Homo sapiens: one gene and its partners. The protein of the gene in region 1 purifies or fractionates together with the protein of each later gene. This does not show direct contact. Each region holds a gene or a part of one and is shown in the gene's direction. Other genes may lie near its edges.

Region 1 (5,248 bases):
AATCCTGTGATTAGATCTGAGTGAGCTGTTTTTTCAACAGTAGCATAAAATATTCAGTGAACATCAAATAATGGTAATTAAGAATCTTGACACCATTTTTATTACAACTTGTATTTTATTTTATTTATTCATTTTTTAAATTTTATTATTATTATACTTTAAGGTTTAGGGTACATGTGCACAATGTGCAGGTTAGTTACATATGTATACATGTGCCATGCTGGTGTGCTGCACCCATTAACTCGTCATCTAGCATTAGGTATATCTCCTAATGCTATCCCTCCCCCCTCCCCCCCACCCCACAACAGTCCCCAGAGTGTGATGTTCCCCTTCTTGTGTCCATGTGTTCTCATTGTTCTATTCCCACCTATGAGTGAGAACATGCGGTGTTTGGTTTTTTGTCCTTGCGATAGTTTACTGAGAATGATGATTTCTAATTTCATCCATGTCCCTACAAAGGACATGAACTCATCATTTTTTATGGCTGCATAGTATTCCATGGTGTATATGTGCCACATTTTCTTAATCCAGTCTATCATTGTTGGACATTTGGGTTGGTTCCAAGTCTTTGCTATTGTGAATAGTGCCGCAATAAATATACGTGTGCATGTGTCTTTATGGCAGCATGATTTATAGTCTTTTGGGTATATACCCAGTAATGGGATGGCTGGGTCAAATGGTATTTCTAGTTCTAGATCCCTGAGGAATCGCCACACTGACTTCCACAATGGTTGAACTAGTTTACAGTCCCAACAGTGTAAAAGTATTCCTATTTCTCCACATCCTCTCCAGCACCTGTTGTTTCCTGACTTTTTAATGATTGCCATTCTAACTGGTGTGAGATGGTATCTCATTGTGGTTTTGATTTGCATTTCTCTGATGGCCAGTGATGGTGAGCATTTTTTCATGTGTTTTTTGGCTGCATAAATGTCTTCTTTTGAGAAGTGTCTGTTCATGTCCTTCGCCCACTTGTTGATGGGGTTGTTTGTTTTTTTCTTGTAAATTTGTTGGAGTTCACTGTAGATTCTGGATATTAGCCCTTTGTCAGATGAGTAGGTTGCGAAAATTTTCTCCCATTTTGTAGGTTGCCTGTTCACTCTGATGGTAGTTTCTTTTGCTGTGCAGAAGCTCTTTAGTTTAATTAGATCCCGTTTGTCAATTTTGTCTTTTGTTGCCATTGCTTTTGGTGTTTTAGACATGAAGTCCTTGCCCATGCCTATGTCCTGAATGGTAATGCCTAGGTTTCTTTCTAGGGTTTTTATGGTTTTAGGTCTAACGTTTAAGTCCACAGCCAATATCCTACTGAATGGGCAAAAACTGGAAGCATTCCCTTTGAAAACTGGCATAAGACAGGGATGCCCTCTCTCACCACTCCTATTCAACATAGTGTTGGAAGTTCTGGCTAGGGCAGTTAGGCAAGAGAAGGAAATAAAGGGTATTCAATTAGGAAAAGAGGAAGTCAAATTGTCCATGTTTGCAGATGACATGATTGCATATCTAGAAAACCCCATTGTCTCAGCCCAAAATCTCCTTAAGCTGATAAGCAACTTCAGCAAAGTCTCAGGATACAAAATCAATGTACAAAAATCACAGGCATTCTTATACACCAATAACAGACAAACAGAGAGCCATATCATGAGTGAACTCCCATTCACAATTGCTTCAAAGAGAATAAAAGACCTAGGAATCCAACTTACAAGGGACATGAAGGACCTCTTCAAGGAGAACTACAAACCACTGCTCAAGGAAATAAAAGAGGATACAAACAAATGGAAGAACATTCCATGCTCATGGGTAGGAAGAATCAATATCGTGAAAATGGCCATACTGCCCAAGGTAATTTACAGATTCAATGCCATCCCCATCAAGCTACCAATGACTTTCTTCACAGAATTGGAAAAAACTACTTTAAAGTTCATATGGAACCAAAAAAGAGCCCGTATCACCAAGTCAATCCTAAGCCAAAAGAACAAAGCTGGAGGCATCACGCTACCTGACTTCAAACTATACTACAAGGCTACAGTAACCAAAACAGCATGGTATTGGTACCAAAACAGAGATATAGATCAATGGAACAGAACAGAGCCCTCAGAAATAACGCTGCATACCTACAACTATCTGATCTTTGACAAACCTGAGAAAAACAAGCAATGGAGAAAGGATTCCCTATTTAATAAATGGTGCTGGGAAAACTGGCTAGCCATATGTAGAAAGCTGAAACTGGATCCCTTCCTTACACCTTATACAACTTGTATTTTAAAGATAAGGCAAAATAAACACTGGCAAGGTAAATCGCCTCTGTGACTGCGCACTGACAGTCTGGGAATTCTCAGGCTCCCTAGTGTTTCGGGCTTGCTTTTCTACTGAATTCTTGCCACAAGGGGCACATTCTCTCAGTTCCTGAGTTGGGCTTTTTTGGAAATAGCTTCAGAGGAGTAAAGGTGCAAAGACCAGGAAGAATGTGCTGCTTTACTGGCGTCCAGTCCTTCCCCTCTTTGCACCCGTGGGCTAGCTCACTGCCTTCTGTTTATTCAGTGCTCAGTACATTTCCTGTATGAACTTATGAGTAAATAAATGTATTGTTGAACCAAACCCCTCTCCTGTTAGTGGACGGTATGTGTCCATGTTAACTGCTCTTGTTTTTGTCCTTCCTCAGTTGGAATTAACGACCTCTGGAAAGATGCCTTTTATGTTACCAGGACAACAGGGCCAAGCTCCGAAGGCCATCCAGCAGCCCTGGTGGTCAGCAAGCTTAGTCTACGGTGGGCACTAATGGAGGGCCAGATGGCTCAGCTACAGGAGTCCACCCCCAAAATTGGCCGTGGGGAGCTGCGAAGATTTCTCTCTAGGATAAAGTTTGTTGAAGCTCCCTACGAGGTGAGTGGCTGCAGAAATATTGTTCCTCTTGAGGGTTTAGGACAAATACTACCAATTCCAGCTTTGTCTTTAGAAAGTAGGCAGAATGGGGAACTTTCTTGAGTAGATGTGTATCAAGACAGTTGTTTTGGACCAACACTGTTTCCTATGGATGCCTTCTGACCATGAAGAAATGATTCTCAATTGTTTTCAGCTGGAAATAATAGCATCTTCCTTAGGGGACATTTGACAATGTGGGGTCGTGGTTTTTATTGTCCCAATGACTGACAGGGGTGGCTACGACTGGTATTTTCTGGGTTGGGGCTAGTGATGCTAACATCATGCAGGGCTTGTAGCAGTTACATACTACAAAGAATCATCTTGCTCAAAATGCTAATGTTCCCTCCCCATCCCCACTCCCAAGAAATATTATAGTCTAGTGCAAAGTTCAAAAGCTTATCATGGAAAATAACAAAGTTTCTGGGCCTTTCTGGAAGGAGGAAATGTTTACAGACTATTGGAGCTAAAGAAAAGGACGGGAAAATAGAGAAATATTCTGACCTTTAGTTTTCCTGCTTTTCTTTGAACATCTCTACCATGAAAAACAATAAAGTCACGATAACTCTTTTTCCATAGATCTAATCTGATGGAATCTTCAGTTGCAGAAGAAGTGAACAGAGTGGATACCCTCTCTACTCTCCTGTCACTGTAAAATCAGTTCTATGGAGAGAAGACTTCTTCGTCCTCATTTACCACCTCCCTGATGGTTGCAAAGGCTTGGGAAGGCATGTTGGAGTCTTTGACGGCAGCATGATCTATTTGGCTGGGGCATCTTACCTACCTTTTCAGTCCCTGCATTAATCCCCTCTAGGAACTCTGCGTGGATCGTTTGGAAATGTGAATCTCTTAAGTATTTAATTTTTTTGGTATGTCTAATTTATGAAGTCTTGCTGGGAAAGCCAGTGAAGTCTATGACTAGGAAACATTTTGTTGTACATTGTGCTGTGTGTGTGTATATTTTAGTGTTGTGGTGAAGTTATTTTCCAGGTATGTCCTAAGCTTCAGGGATCCAGTTTCTTGTCCTTCTGAAATATATCTGGTTTGTTTGGTCATTTTGAGACTTCCAGATGCCCTACCTCTGATGTTGAGGGCCACTTATTTCTCTCCTTATTCTTTCCCACCTGTACCTTGGCTACTTCCAAATTGTAGACAGAATGAGAAAGATTTATAGTGGAAGACTGAGTTAGCCATCCAAGCATTTTCATCTCTCTTGTTTTATATCCTATTTCCTTAGATTTTCCATCCATGTCTATTAAGTGACCACAAGAATAACTATATTCCTATCACAAGGGGAGCAAGAGGATGTAGTCTCAGTGACCCATCTCTGACCAAGTCCACATGTTGTGTTATATGTGGCTCTGATGGTTCTGCCAGTCATGATCTTTTTTCTGTGGCGACATCAGAAGTGTATGTTTGCATGCTGTCTTCAACTTAGAGGAGAACTGGAAGTCAGGAGCCTTTGATGTCCTTATCCTGCTGTATGTCTTCTCTGCATCTTTTTCTATAGGGCACCCTCCTTAGCTCCCCTCACTCTGTTTTCTCTTCTATTCAGGGATATGTTTCTGGACTTTTTCTTCTGCTACTTGAGTCCAGGATGCAACCATTTTGTCCTGCATCTCTTCTTTCCTGTAGAGCCTTTGAAGCATTGTATTTTGGGAAAATTCTTCTGTAAATACTATAACTTTTATAAATGGTTAAGTTATTTAGAATTATCTCCAGTGCTTACTTCTCCCTTCTTCTGTATAAATCTGCTACTTCAATTAAGTTCTCCTCTAAACTTTTAGGTCATTGTTTATATAGCAGAAAATTCAATGTTAGCGGATGGAAAACTGCTTCTTGAATAACCTTGATAGGTCATCCCTGAGTGCACCTCAGGTTCTCTCTTTACCTGGGCTTGTATCTTTTTTTTTTTTTTTTTTTTTTTTTTGAGACAGAGTTTTGCTCTTGTCGCCCAGGCTGGAGTGCAGTGGCACAATCTCGGCTCACTGCAACCTTCGCCTCCTGGGTTCAAGCGATTCTCCAGCCTTAGCCTCCCAAGTAGCTGGGACTACAGGTGCCCGCTACCATGCCTGGCTAATTTTTTTTTTTGTATTTTTAGTAGAGACGGGGTTTCACCATGTTGGCCAGGCTGGTCACGAACTCCTGACCTCAGATAATCCACCTGCTTCTGCCTCCCAAAGTGCTGGGATTACAGGCGTGAGCCACCATGCCCGGCTGGGCTTGTATCTTTTAGCTTGTGTTAGTAAAAGGATTCTAGAAAATTATGAAGTCCAGATTCAAAGGGATCTCTGTTAATTACCCACTGACAGGCATTATGACCTAACAGGAGGTT
Region 2 (4,374 bases), on another chromosome or scaffold:
ATTGTGTTGGCTCTCATTGGGTCACTTGCCAGCCTTGAACTAATTACTATGGTTAAGAGATGGACTATGCTGACTGGCAGGAAGTGAGGTTCATCTCACTTAAATCTTACTGTGGTTTCTCAATGGTAGACTGGAGTACCTTGCCAGGGCAGAGAAAAAATGTGAAGAATTGATGTCTTTAACAGCCAAGGAGACTAGTCGGCCAGGGTGCACCAATGGGTCAAGGTGTAGAGGTGGCAATGAGCTGAGTGCCTGCTATGGGCATAGCTCTTTGCTAAATATTCTCGGGAGACTGAGGCAGAGGGTCCCTTCTTTTGCTTTCAAAGGACTTCACTCTAGTGAGGAGGTAAGGTGCCAACCTCTGCAGAGAGGCCAACTTACATAACTTCAGGTCAGGTCTGTAGGGAACACCAGGAGAGGAAATGATCAAGGAAGACTTCCAAGGAAAGGTTAGTGTGTATTTAAAATTTTTAAGCATCTTCTTATTGCGAGGCACTGTGCTAGGCTCTTGGGAACACAGAATTTAAGACATGAGGTCCCTGTCTTCGAGGAACTCTTTTAGCTGTGGTTTATTTAATCATTCAGCAAACATTTATTCAGCCTTTGCTCTGTGCCGGCACGTGCTAGGCACAGAAGACTCCTAGTGAGCCAAAACAGGCACAGTCTGCTCTCATGGAGCTCTCAGTACTGCGGGAGAGGCAGACGTCACTTACATAGCAACCAAAATACATGTCCAAGTGTGCACAATGGTAAGTGTATTGAAGAATGAATGGGCACAGTTTGCCCAGAGTAAAGCAAGAGACCTGACTCAGTCCAGGGGTCTTCTCCCTGAGGAGGTGAGGTTTGAGATGAGATCTGATGGTGCATAGGAGTTAACCCAACAGAGACAGGAAGGTAGAAAGGATAAAGAGATGAGTTGGGATGGAGGGAAACACAGGGTTGGCCGGAGAAACCCACTGCTAGGTGGGAGCTGGGAAGGAAATTAAGAGGCCTCAGGATTCCAAATAAAACATGACAGTTTATGCCTCCTGTCAGTTAGACCCCAGCAAGTGTGTTCTGTGATTCCCATCTCCTGAGGATGGATCAAGGGGTTACCCTTAAGTCTGGTGAGGATCCAAGGTGATCCCTTGGCCAGGGGCCCCTGGCTGACCCTGACTGCTTCCTGGTCTGTCTGCTTCTCCCTAGATCAGCCTGTCCTCGGGGACCCTGCTTCTGCTGCTGGGTGTGGCGGCTCTGACCACTGGCTATGCAGTGCCCCCCAAGCTGGAGGGCATCGGTGAGGGTGAGTTCCTGGTGTTGGATCAGCGGGCAGCCGACTACAACCAGGCCCTGGGCACCTGTCGCCTGGCAGGCACAGCGCTCTGTGTGGCAGCTGGAGTTCTGCTCGCCATCTGCCTCTTCTGGGCCATGATAGGCTGGCTGAGCCAGGACACCAAGGCAGAGCCCTTGGACCCCGAAGCCGACAGCCACGTGGAGGTCTTCGGGGATGAGCCAGAGCAGCAGTTGTCACCCATTTTCCGCAATGCCAGTGGCCAGTCATGGTTCTCGCCACCCGCCAGCCCCTTTGGGCAATCTTCTGTGCAGACTATCCAGCCCAAGAGGGACTCCTGAGCTGCCCACATGGCCTAAGATGTGGGTCCTGGATCCTTCCCCCCTTCTCACCATAACCCCCTCTCAGTGTTTCCCCAACTTCTCCCTTTTAGCAGGGTCCCTTTAGAGCCCAACTCCAGGTCAAATCTGGAGCTCAAATCCCAGTGCTCCCTCCCCAGGAGTGGGGCCCCAACTCTTCCAAGATACCAGCATTCCTCAAGTCCTCCCAAAACTTCCTACCCACACCCTCTTCCCAAGGCCCTCAGGGGCAGAAAACATCTCCTTCAACCCGTCCCCACTCCTTCCTCTGCATGACCTTGGGCAAACCCTTGCCCTTTCAAGCCATCAGCTCCTGCCTCTCTGCCATGAGGGCTTTGGATCAGATTCCTCTTCTCGCCAGGATGAGGACACGCACTGCCCTCCATAGACACAGATGAAGGGGTGGGGGTCATTCAGCTCGAATGGGTCCCAGATGCTCACTTGGCCTTTCCCTGCAGGATGAGTGAAGACGTTTGCCTCTCACAGTGTGTCTTCTACCTGCATTTTGGCATCAGAGCCCCCCAGCCCACCCACCACAGGCAATTACTAGCCCTAGTTGATAGGTGAGGTGGGTGAAGAAGGCTGGAGGTGACATGTCCGAGGTCACACAACAAAGCAGCATGCAGGAACTAGAAACACATCTTCAGCCTCCTCCTGGGCCAGCTCTTGTGCTACAGGTGGGGCGGAGCCAGCCCCTCACCTTCCTGGTTCCCTGAGGGTCCTCAGGGTGGAGGACAGGTTTGGCCCAGAAAGACTAGCCAGAGGCCTGATGGTCCCAGGTGGCTCTGGATATACTTTGGATATGGATTTAAATGGTCTCTAAGAGCCGGGGGTAGGGGGCAGGAAAAGTGGGTTGTCTTTGCCCCTCAAAGTCCACCTACCTAGAAACCAAGCCCACGGTCTTGGCCGTGACCCTGATAATAAATGGGCTCTCTCAGAGGCGCCAGCCCCTCCCTCCCCAGCCGGAGGCGTCATCTCTCTTCTGTACCACTAGAGGGAGCTCTGATGCAGCTGGAGAGCAGCGCTCAAGGCTCTCGCCCCTCCCCTCCCTAACCCTTACCTTCAGTCTCCACCAGCCTGAAGGGCCTCCTAGGGGATCCTCAGGCGGCCCCCACCAGGGCACACCCTACTGTCCTTGTGCCTCACGCCCCCTCCTCATCCTGCACCCCTTCCATCCCACCTTCCCTTTCAATAAACAGCTGGGATGGATACTGACTTTGTTTCCTTTCTCCCTGGCCACTGGGGCGTGGGGAGGAGAAAGACACAGACTCAGGAGCACCTACTGTGTGCTGGGCACGACCCATTATTTCTCATTCGCTCCTCAGGATAACCTGTTGAGAAAGGAATTATTGTCTTCTTTTTTTTTTTTTTAAGATGTTGTCTCGCTCTGTCGCCCAGGCTGGAATGCAGTGGGGCGATCTTGGCTCACTGCAACCTCTGCCTCCTGGGTTCAACCAATTCTCCTGCCTCAGCCTCCCAAGTAGCTGATATTACAGGTGCACGCCACCACGCCTGGCTAATTTTTGTATTTATAGTGGAGACGGGGTTTTACCATGTTGGCCAGGCTGGTCTTGAACTCCTGACCTCAAATGATCCGCCTGCCTCGGCCTCCCAAAGTGCTGGGATTACCGGGTGAGCCACCTTACCCAGACTTATTGTCTTCATTTTACAGATGCGGTAACTGATGATCAGAGAGGTGAGTGATTTATTTTTTATTTTTATTTTTAATTCTTTTTTATTTTTTTCGAGACGGAGTCTGGCTCTGTCACCCAGGCTGGAGTGCAGTGGCACGAGCTCAGCTCACTGCAAGCTCCGCCTCCCGGGTTCATGCCAGTCTCCTGCCTCAGCCTCCCAAGTAGCTGGGACTATGAGTAGCTGGGACTACAGGTGCCTGCCAACACACCCAGCTAATTTTTTGTATTTTTAGTAGAGACAGAGTTTCACCATGTTAGCCAGCATGGTCTCAAATCTCCTGACCTCGTGATCCGCCCGCCTCGGCCTCCCAAAGTGCTGGGATTACAGGCGTGAGCCACCGCGCCCGGCCTATTTTTAATTCTTTTTATTTCAGTAGCCTTTGGGGTCAAAGTGGGTTTTGGTTACATGAATTAGTTCTATAGTGATTCTGAGATTTTAGTACACCTATCACCTGAGCAGTGTATACTGTACCCAATACGCAGTTTTTTATCCCTCATCCCCTCCCAACCTCCCTGGACTCAGTCCCCAAAGTTCGTTATATCACTCTGTATGCCTATGCATCCTCATAGCTTAGCTTCCGCTTATATAAGTGAGAACCTACCGTATCTGGATTTCCGTTCCTGAGTTACTTCACTTAGGATAATGGCCTCCAGCTCCACCCAAGTCCTGCAGTGGATTTAAATGCTCAGCCTAGGGCCTGGAGGGGTGGCTGGGCCAGGCGAGGTGGCTCACGCCTGTAATCCCAGGACTTTGGGAGGCCGAGGTGGGTGGATCACCTGAGGTCAGGAGTTCAAGACCAGCCTGGCCAACATGGTAAAACCCCATAACTACTAAAAATACAAAAATTAGCTGAGCATGGTGGTGCATGCCTGTAATCCCAGCTACTCGGGAGACTGAGGCAGGAGAATTGCTTGAACCCGGGTGGTGGAGGTTGCAGTGAACCAAGTTCACACCATTGCACTCCAGCCTGGGCAACAGAGCAAGCCTCTGTCTCAAAAAAAAAAAAAAAAAGTGCTTAGCCTGATTGGCCTATTGCCTGAGTGTGGAGCT
Region 3 (5,248 bases), on another chromosome or scaffold:
GTAAAACATTTTATTGTAAACTTCTTAAATCGTTTGACCTGTCTTAAATTGATTAAGAGATTTACTGACCACCTGCAGTGTAAAAGGCTTTGGTGGACAAACAAAAGGAATAAATCACAGGGGCCATGTGTCATTTGCCTTGTTTTCCTATTACCTGCTAAGTGCTAGACTCTCAAATGTTTCTTGTCTAACACAGCATCTGCCCTTAAGATATTTATGGTATCACAAACTTGGAGCACAGATATGAAAAACATATGGTACAGTGATGAGGAGGAGGAGAAGGTGATCAGTAATATCAGATTCTAATCAGAATAAGTACTGGAAAAAGGCCATTGGTTTTGTTTATTATAGTTTTGTTGATGACTTTCAAAAGAGTAGCTTGAATACCATAGCAGTGTAAAGACAGTCTCTACCAACTTGGGGAGACATGTAACACTTATGATGCAAGACCACCTAAGCCAAACTGTAGTATAATACTTCGAAGCAAAGAAGGCTTGTCCAAGTAGTGCATTTTATTCTCAGAAGCTGCTTTACTAAGACAGAGAAACAATATGGGGATGAGTGAGTATTAAATGTCACTTCCCTCCCTACCTACCTTGTCAAGGTACTCTCTTGCTTGATTCCTGGTGAGGCAATAATTCAGTCTGCATGGGAGAATATTTATGTTTCTTTTTACATTACGTGGGACAGACTTCTGAGATGATGATTCCCCCTGTGTCATTTGGAACTTGGGGGAGCCCCTCTCCCTCGCTATCAGTGACTGTATCTGATACAGTCTCATTGCTTTCTAGCCACGGCTTCTACTGGTCTAGTGTTAAAGTATCGTAACACCATATACTAAAATATTCATTGTATGGTACAAAATAGTGCTGTGGGACATAGAGAAAGCCAGAACCAGTTATTATATGCACCGGAGGTACCAGCCCTGAAGTGTGAGCCTTTCGTATTTTAGCTAGAAAAGAAGCATACCTGGTTAAGTAACAGGAAATTTCAGAATGAGCTCATGTTTAAATTCTGGCATTCCTGAAATGGTTTTCTCTATCATTTATTGAAGAATTTGAAGCCAGTTGATTTTAAACAAGTTTCTTATGAGGTATAAACTCAAATGTTTATTGAATAATTGAAAATGGACTTAAAAGTGTGCTGTAGTAGATATACTTTGTGATTAATGGTGTGCACTACAAGACTACATTTTGAGCATTTGTAATAATTTTATCTCTTAGACTTAATATATGGCTAATTTTTCATGAGTGTCTCAACCATAAACAGTTTGAAGTTCTGTATCTGGGAGAGAAGTAAAAACAGGTTTCCTTAAGCTCTATTCCTTTCTAGCCCTCACCTCTGACTTCAAGTAAGCATAGCTTGTTTATATTTGTTAGTTTCCTTCCTTAAACTAAGGAAGTTTTGTGCCTCTGCCTTTGCATATGCTATTCCTTCTCCCTGAAATGTTGCTGTCCTCCCAAGTCACTTTCTAAAAATTTTATTAAGGAAATTTTCATACATACAAAAGTAGTGAAGTAGTACGAAAACCTCCCATTTATTCATCACCCAGCTTCAACCATTAACAACATTTTGCCAAGTCCAGATAATTTAATGGTTAGCTCACATGTTTTCGTGGTAAAACTTTCCTTTTTTTTTTTTTTTGAGACGGAGTCTCGCTCTGTCGCCCAGGCCGGACTGCGGACCGCAGTGGCGCAATCTCGGCTCACTGCAAGCTCCGCTTCCCGGGTTCACGCCATTCTCCTGCCTCAGCCTCCCGAGTAGCTGGGACTACAGGCGCCCGCCACCGCGCCCGGCTAATTTTTTGTATTTTTAGTAGAGACGGGGTTTCACCTTGTTAGCCAGGATGGTCTCGATCTCCTGACCTCATGATCCACCCGCCTCGGCCTCCCAAAGTGCTGGGATTACAGGCGTGAGCCACCGCGCCCGGCCTTTTTTTTTTTTTTTCTTTTTTGAGACAGAGTCTTGCTCTGTCACCAGGCTGGAGTGCAGTGGTGCGATCTCGGCTCACTGCAACCTCCGCCTCCCAGGTTCAAGCGATTCCTCTGCCCCAGCCTCCCAAATAGCTGGGACTACAGGCACCCGCCACCATGTCGGGCTAATTTTTTGTATTTTAGTAGAGACGGGGTTTCACCGTGTTGGCCGGGATTGTCTCGATCTCCTGACCTCATGATCTGCCTGCCTTGGCCTCCCAAAGTGCTGGGATTACAGGCGTGAGCTACCATGCCCAGCCAAGCTTTCTTTACTTCCTAGCCAGGGGGATCTGTTTTTCTCACGGTGCACCTGCAAAAGTTTCTGGATCCTTCTTGTATGTACTTATTAAATAGTACTCAGTACACATTGGTAGGATTGTCCTTTTCTCTTATTTTTCTCTCTACAGCAAGATGTTCTCCTGGAGGGAAGAGGGTGATGTCTTTATAAGGGCAGTGGCTCACGCCTGTAATCCCAGCATTTTGGGAGGCCAAGGCAGGTGGATTGCCCAGGAGTTCGAGACCAGCCTGAGCAACATGACGAAACCCCCTCTCTACCAAAAAAAAATATATATTATATTATATATATATTTATATATTATATTATATATATATTTATATAATATATATTTATATATAGATATATAATATATAAATATATATAAAACATATAAAAATATATATACACACACACATACATACATATATATATTAGCGGGGCATGGTGTGGTGGTGCATGCCTGTAGTCCCAGCTACAGGGGAGGCTGAAGTGGGAGGATCACTTGAGCCGGGGAGGCAGAGGTTGCAGTGAGCCTAGATCGCAGTAACTACTCTCCATCCTGGGTGACAGAATGAGACCCTGTCTCAAAATAAAATGTGTGTGATGGCTAACTTATTAATTAAAACATTTGAGGTGTTCATTACACATTTGTTGAATGAATGTCTCCTCCAAAAAATATTGTGAATACTCAGTTGTATCTGCATGTAACAGTAAACAACAACAAAAAACTTTTTTTTTTTAAATTATACTGTAAGTTCTAGGGTACATGTCCACAGCGTGCAGGTTTGTTGCATAGGTATACATGTGCCATGTTGGTTTGCTGCACCCATCAACTCATCATTTACATTAGTTATTTCTCCTAATGCTATCCCTCCCCCAGCCCGCCACCCGCTGACAGGCCCTGGTGTAGGTGTGTGATGTTCCCCACCCTGTGTCCAAGTGTTCTCATTGTTCAGTTCCCACCTATGAGTGAGAACATGCGGTGTTTGGTTTTCTGTCCTTGTAATAGTTTGCTGAGAATGATGGTTTCCAGCTTCATCCATGTCCCTGCAAAGGACATGAACTAATCCTTTTTTATGGCTAAAAAACGTTTTAAAGATAGTCAATTTTGATCTTTATCAGATAACAGGCTTTGCTTAGTTCTGTAGATTGACCCTCCTGTGGGTGCTTTCTCTGCATGGGAAGCCCTTATCTGGATGCCTCCTTAAACCAGACACACTGTTTTAATTATTATCTCAGTAGATACTGGCTCTGGGCAAATTACTGTGGGAAAACTGAAAAATGATTTTTTTTTTAAAGTCTCCAGAGAATCTTCTGGAATAGGTGTGGCAGTGAAAGAAGAAAACAAAGAATTCCTCTCTTCAGGCCCTGTGCTTCCATGGATCTGATACAGTTATTTTGTAACAAGTCAAATCTAACAGATTTCTTATTGTACACACTTACATAAGATGTAGAAGCTTTCAAAAACAATGCACACCACCTGATTTGACTGATTAAATTTACAGTACTGTTAACACATTGAGTGGTGAATCCGCAGCCCATGCTGCTAAAATATTGCTGCATTCTATACCTCTCCATATTGCCAAGTTTAGAAGTTAATAATTTAATCTTTTTTTTTTTTTTTTAAAGAGATGGGGTCTTGCTATGTTGCCTGTGCTGGTGTGCAATGGCATGATTATAGCACACTGCAGCCTTGAACTGGGCTCAAACAATCCTCCCACCTCAGGCACCTGACCAGCTGGGACTACAGGCACACACCACTGTCCCCAGCTTAATCATTCTTTTTAAATTACATTTTTATTAACTTTCTTTCCTGAATACAGTGAAAGGAAAAAGTGAATCAGGAATAAATATTTGTAATAGTTAGTACATAGTTGGATATTTTCAGAGAAATTTTGTATTGTAAGATTACAGTTAATTTTATGTATTTTTTGAAAAGCTAAACATGTAATTTAGAAATATCAACTTTAATCAGAGATAAGTTGCCAGGGCTTACATGTGAGCACAAGGTAGGCGTTCGTTGGTGAATATCTTTAAGATCAAAGGATGCCAGGAGCGGTGGCTCGTGCCTGTCATCCTAGCACTTTAGGAGGCCAATGCAGTAGGATCACTTGAGGCCAGGAGTTCAAGACCAGACTGGACAACATAGTGAGACTCCATCTCTACAAAAAAAATTTTTTTAAGTCACAAGGATGGGTTTTCCAGTGTAATACTTTAAGATGTAAGTTGGGGTTCTAATGAAATGATGTGATCTAATGGAATATAATTAACTCAAAGAAGATTTGGAAAAAGCTTTTAATGAAGTAGCATTGAAATTTATTTCACTGTTTCTTGGTCCTTCTGATTGGCCCTACGATTTATTTTGTTTAATATTTAGTGGTATGACCCACAGTGAAATTAAACTTGAAGTGTCTCTAGTACTAAAAGAAGATAATAGTGGATGAGCGTGTGACTTATCCATGGAAGAGAAGAAAAGTGAAGAGTTCTTTTGTTTTTTAAGAGACAGACTTAGTATTGTTGCCTAGGCTGGTCTCCAGAGCTCAGGCGATCCTTCCCACCTCAGCCTCCCAAGTAGCTGGGACTATAGGTGTGAGATTTTTAGAAATCCTTCATGTAATAAAAATATTTAAGAAGGGAAAATAGAACTCCTAAATGTTTTTGGCATGTCATTCCCTTCATTTAGTAATTGGGTTTGCATGCTTTTCTTGACAAAGGAATTTCTGTACCGCAGAGAGCTTTTTCACTGTGACTATGCTGTGTTTAGCAAAGAAGAGTTTGCCTAATTGATTTCAAACTGATTTCCATACACAGAACATATAACGTTTTAGTAGATATATCTGATAGTTCAGTAATTAATTCACCTAGTTGTATTAGCTCATACTCATACACCACACACGCTGGCCAAAACCCATTGCAGCAAATGTGGGCAACAAAAAAAATCAGCTTTCAACTGGGGAGAGCCACCTTGCAAAAGTGATTGTTCCTGGTAAGTCCTCTC
Region 4 (5,248 bases), on another chromosome or scaffold:
TGCTATATTGTGCAAAGCTCAGGCCTACAGACATATTCTTTTCAATACTCAAATAAATGTAAGTTGTGATAATTTCATTTTTTAATTTTATTTGATGCTGTTACATTTTAAAAGAATAATAAGAATTTTAAACAGAAGTAAAGAATATTATAAAAGAGGAAAAGAAATTCTAATGTGAGAGTGGGTCTTTTATTGCAACATATCTGGAAGTTTCTAGAAATAATAGATGTTGATTTTGAAAGGTGCACAATGCTTAGTGAGTGTTTAAGAATATGGTCACTGGCAGGAAACTGACAAGCCATGATCTGAATTACCTGCTAGTAAATTGAAACAATCATCACTGGTTTTTAACAGAATACAATTAGACATATCCAGGTAGGGAGAGAATTATACCTAAATGAGTTAAGCAAACATTAAAAGAAAAATGTTTTTTTAAAACATAATTTATTGCATTTTATACTTTGCTATTAAAGGAATGTATAAGGTAAATAACATTCAGTTTAATCAAAGTCCTGATTTATAAAGTTGAATTTTTCAAAATAAACTTTTAGTTTATTGAATTGTGAGCTCTTTAATAGTTTGGGTAGAGTTGACAGATAACATACAGGACAGTCAATTAAATTTGAATTTCATATATACCATGAATTAATTTTTTAGTATAAGAATGTCCCAAATATTGCATGGAACATACTTATACAATAAAAATGGATTCATGGTGTGTGTGAAACTCAAATTTAACTGGCGGTCCTGTTATTTTATTTATTTATTTATTTTTGAGACGGAGTCTTGCTCTGTCACCCAGGCTGAAGTGCAGTGGCGTGATCTCGGCTCACTGCAGCCTCTACCTCCTGGGTTCAAGTGTTCTACTGCCTCAGCCTCCCAAGTAGCTGGGATTACAGGCACGCATCACCAAGCCCAGCTAATTTTTGTATTTCTAGTAGAGATGAGGTTCGCCATGTTGACCAGGCTAGTCTGGAATTCCTGACCTCAAGTGATCCTCCCACCTCAGCCTCCCAAAGTATTGGGATTACAGGCATGAGCTACTGTGCCCAGCTCTTCCTCACTTTATATTGATGGAGAAAGTTCAACCTGAAGGAGGAATACATAGAAAAAAGCCAATTTTTGTTGCCTAGTATTTTTTATTTTAGCCAAAATTTCAGACTTTTAAGAATTAGGTTTTAATTGTTCTCTTTTAACATATTGAGTCATACTCATCCAGCTGGAGATATTTTTAAAAAACTGATGTTCAGACTAATAGTTTCTTATTCAATATCATGGAATCTTCAGATTAAGTCTATTCTCTTATTGCTGTTCCCACATATACATGAATCACATAAGTTTTTTGCTTGATTCTGTATAAAGGACAGAAATCAAAAATGTATAATGAAAGGTGAACTATTATTTAAAGCAGTGATTCTTAACTAGGGGTGCACATTAGAATCCCCCCAGAACTGTTTCAAAGTATGATGTCTATGTTGTACTATGAAGATTCTCAATCAGGACCTGGGCTCAGACATTTAAATTTTGAAAAAAATCTCCCCATGTGCTTCTGATGGACATTGCTGATTAAAACTCACTGATTACAAAATGACTACAATTAGCCACTTAATTGGGCAGTCCTGAATTTGAAAAGTGACTAGGTGGGATGCCACAAATACTCTGTACCTGTTGATACTAGTGCAACTGGGTTTCCTTACCTAATTGAATGGCAATGTCTTTGACTATCAGATCCATGGAAAACTCTGCATATTTTGTTTGCTTTGTGAAGCATACCTGAGGTGGTGGCAGCTTCAAGATTCCAACCAGAATACTGCCCCTGATGACTTGATCAGATATGCTAAGGAATGGGATTTCTATAGAATGTTTGCGATTGCTGCTTTAGGTAAGGAGATGCCATGCTTTCCATTCTTAGTTAACTATTCTTACTTAACTAATCTGGTTAAAACTAAGACATGTAGTCTTAATTGTTGGTAAGAAGAGCTAGTTAATATGGGACTTAAGATGAAATTTTCAGCTCTACCACTACTAACCTACGAGGTGAGTGTGTTTGAATCACCTGCTTTTTAAAAATTTGTTACCACGTATATGGTATGGAAGTAGTTATGCTTATCGGATTAGAAAGTTTCATAAAATATTTCGAAGCACAATATTGTTGATAAAATTCTTTTATTTTTATTATTATATATTTTTTAAGACAGGGTCTCACTCTGTTGCCTAGGCTGGAGTGCAGTGGCACAGTCACAGCTCACTGCAGCCCTGAACTCCTGGGCTCAAGCAATCCTCCTGCCTCGGCCCCCCCAGGTAGCTGGAACCACAGGTATGCACCACCACACCATGCACCACCTCCAGCTAATTTTTGTATTTTTTTGTTGAGATGGGGGGTCTTTCCGTGTTGCCCAGGCTGGTCTTGAACTCCTGAACTCAAGCAGTCCTCCCACCTCAGCCTCCCAAAGTGCTGGGATTACAGGTGTGAGCCACTGTGCCTGGCCAATAAAATTCTTAATGTTTAAGTTTTGATTATCCAATCTGAAAGTTAGCTAAGTCCTATCTTTATTAATAGAGATAATTGCCAGACATTACCCAATGTATTGTACTAATTGCATTATACTAATGCAGTGTATTTAATAGGGTTTGGTATTTTTTGTTACTTGTTACTTATCTGAGTGCATGCAGGGAATTTGGCTACTCCTCAAAATTCCTTAAGTTCAGGAAGTGCTTTTCAGAATTTCACTTCATAAGTTATTGTTTTCCTAGTGTCAGAATTGTGTTGAGCTAATTTCTGTGACTATTTTATTGCTAGTTCCATGCTTCTCTGCTTCTCAACTCTTTGATTATAATGAAATCTTACTTTAGTAATACTAAGTCTCCAGTCCACTCCAATATCACATTTCTGGGCTGTGTGTCTTCTTTTGTCCTCTTTTTTTCTCTGTCTGCTCTCGCTCTCTTGGTCATGTAACCTGTCTGCTGAGAACTCTCAAATGTCCATCTAGACCTTTCTCCAGACCTCCAGACTCTGCATCCCTCTGCCTTCTCAACATCACCACTTGGATATCTAATAAATCACCATACCCATAATTGAGCTCCTCATCTCTCTGCCTCTACCACAGCCTTCTCCTTCTCAGTTGTAACTCCATTCTTTTAGTTGCATTCACCAGAAAACCTTGCAGTCATCCCTGATGCCTCTTTCTTTGATACCCCATAGTCAGGTCATCAGGAAATCCCATTGGCTCCACCTTCAAAGTACTTCTACTTTTTTTTTTTTTTTTTTGAGACGGAGTCTCACTCTGTCGCCCAGGCTGGAGTGCAGTGGCGCGGTCTTGACTCACTGCAACCTCTGCCTCCTGGGTTCAAGCAGTTCTCCTGCCTTAGCCTCCCGAGTAGCTGGGATTACAGGCACGTGCCACCATGCTTAGCTAATTTTTGTATTTTTAGTAGAGACGGCTTCACCATGTTGGTCAGGCTGGTCTCGAACTTCTGACCTCGTGATCCGTCCGCCTCTGCCTCCCAAAGTGCTGGGATTACAGGCATGAGCCACTGCGCCCAGCCACACTTCTACTATTATACTACTGCTACCCTCCATTCCCTCCACGGCTGCCACACTGTTGCAGGCCACTCTCATCCTTCACCTGCATGACTACAGTAGCCTCCTTGTTTGCTAGCCCAGTTCTCCAACTGTGTATTTGCACGCAACACAGAGTAGTCCTTTTCAACCAAATCAGATCATGTCACTGTTGTGCTAGAACACAGTAGCTCCCCGTTTCACTCAGAGTGCAAGCTGAAGTCTTTACAGTGGGCCTTGTACTGGAATCTGCCCCTCCCACTGCGTCTCTCATTTTATCCACAGCTGTCATCTCCCATGTCTACTCTGACCCTCCCCATCTAGTTAACTTGCTTCAGAAACACTGGATGAGCTTCCACCTTAAGGCCTTTGAAGTGGCTCTTCCTGTGCCCGGAATGCCTGTCCCCCTGATGCCCAGATGTCTGACTCCTGCATACCCCTCAAGAGTTGGCTAAAATGACACTTTCTAAATGAAGTGTACCTCTGACACTCCTGATCTCCTGTTCCGGCTCTACTTTGTTTTTCTTATGGTACTTACTATTTAACATATCACAGAAGTTATTATCTTTTGTTAGTGCCTTTCCCCACTAACATGTCAACTGAATGAGGTCAGGGCTCTTTGTGTTAGTCACGGTTGTAGCTCAAGCACTTAGGTGCCTGGCCCAGGTGCTTAATAAATATTTGCTCAGCTGATTGAATGAATGATTGCATACATTCATCCACGCACTCTTAACTTGAGCAAGTCACCATCAGTTACACTCGGTGATTATTCATTCACTATTCATTATTATTCATTCCCTTAAGAAATATTTTTAAATACTTATTAGGTGCCAGTTACTACTTTAGGTACTTTAGGTACTAGAGATATATCCATGGAAAATACATAGAAAAATCTCCGCCTCCATTATTATGTAATTACTAAGGCTTATGACAGCTTAACCGCCATGATGTCCAGTCTATCGATAATTTTGTATACAATTTGGACTTTGCAACAATTTAAAATATTTGAAATATACAAAAGAATATGTTAACCTTTTTATCTTATGAAACATAATACTACTGAAAACATCCTTGAGCACATCATCTAGCCCAAGAACTAGAACCTAATATGATTTTAAACCTTAAAGCAAAGCCTCTTAAAAATTTTTTTTAATTTTTATTTTTTTAAGAGTGAAGGTCTTGCTCTGTCACCGAGGCTAGGGTGCAGTGGCACAGTCATAGCTCACTGCAGCCTGGAGCTCCTGGGCTCAAGGGATCCCCCTGCCTCCGTCTCCTGAGTAGCTGGAACTACAGGTACATGCTACTGTGCCTGGCTAATTTAAAAAAAAAAATTTATGTAAAGGCAGTATCTTACTCTGTTGTCCAGGTTGGTCTTGAACTCCTGGGCTCAAACAGTCCTCCCATATGGGCCTCCCAAAGTGCTGAGACTGCAGGCATCAGCCACTGTTCCTGGCCCTTCTTAAAATTTCTAAAGATAAACTGTTATATGTCCATATTTTGTATATACTATTAAAAACCAGGCTTGTTTTTAAATGGGTTGGAATTCTTATAGCAACTACTCTGTAGTAGATATTTTGATGCTTAATCAGAAGTTTCTTTCTACTATTACTTAACTTTTTTATGTGTCTTAGTCTAATCCCTAATTAGACTGTATAGTCCAAAAGAATATCTTGGCCGGGCGTGGTACCT

Evidence for each region. The genes of interacting proteins can lie anywhere in the genome.
Region 2: the proteins of FAM234B (region 1) and NRSN2 purify together in Homo sapiens (affinity purification with mass spectrometry; 2 studies listed by BioGRID and IntAct, with this or other methods). This does not show direct contact.
Region 3: the proteins of FAM234B (region 1) and LAPTM4A purify together in Homo sapiens (affinity purification with mass spectrometry; 2 studies listed by BioGRID and IntAct, with this or other methods). This does not show direct contact.
Region 4: the proteins of FAM234B (region 1) and ARV1 purify together in Homo sapiens (affinity purification with mass spectrometry; 2 studies listed by BioGRID and IntAct, with this or other methods). This does not show direct contact.

Annotation. Positions count from the first base shown.
Region 1 is NC_000012.12:13,077,133-13,082,380, forward strand, and holds part of FAM234B (protein FAM234B), read left to right. Parts: intron 1-2,656; coding exon 2,657-2,877; intron 2,878-3,492; coding exon 3,493-3,498; 3' UTR 3,499-5,248.
Region 2 is NC_000020.11:352,025-356,398, forward strand, and holds the end of NRSN2 (neurensin-2), read left to right. Parts: intron 1-1,185; coding exon 1,186-1,611; 3' UTR 1,612-2,838; downstream 2,839-4,374. UniProt on the Homo sapiens protein: May play a role in maintenance and/or transport of vesicles.
Region 3 is NC_000002.12:20,044,093-20,049,340, reverse strand, and holds part of LAPTM4A (lysosomal-associated transmembrane protein 4A), read left to right. Parts: intron 1-5,248. UniProt on the Homo sapiens protein: May function in the transport of nucleosides and/or nucleoside derivatives between the cytosol and the lumen of an intracellular membrane-bound compartment.
Region 4 is NC_000001.11:230,988,382-230,993,629, forward strand, and holds part of ARV1 (protein ARV1), read left to right. Parts: coding exon 1-58; intron 59-1,728; coding exon 1,729-1,882; intron 1,883-2,194; coding exon of another isoform or gene 2,195-2,317; intron 2,318-5,248. UniProt on the Homo sapiens protein: Plays a role as a mediator in the endoplasmic reticulum (ER) cholesterol and bile acid homeostasis. Participates in sterol transport out of the ER and distribution into plasma membranes.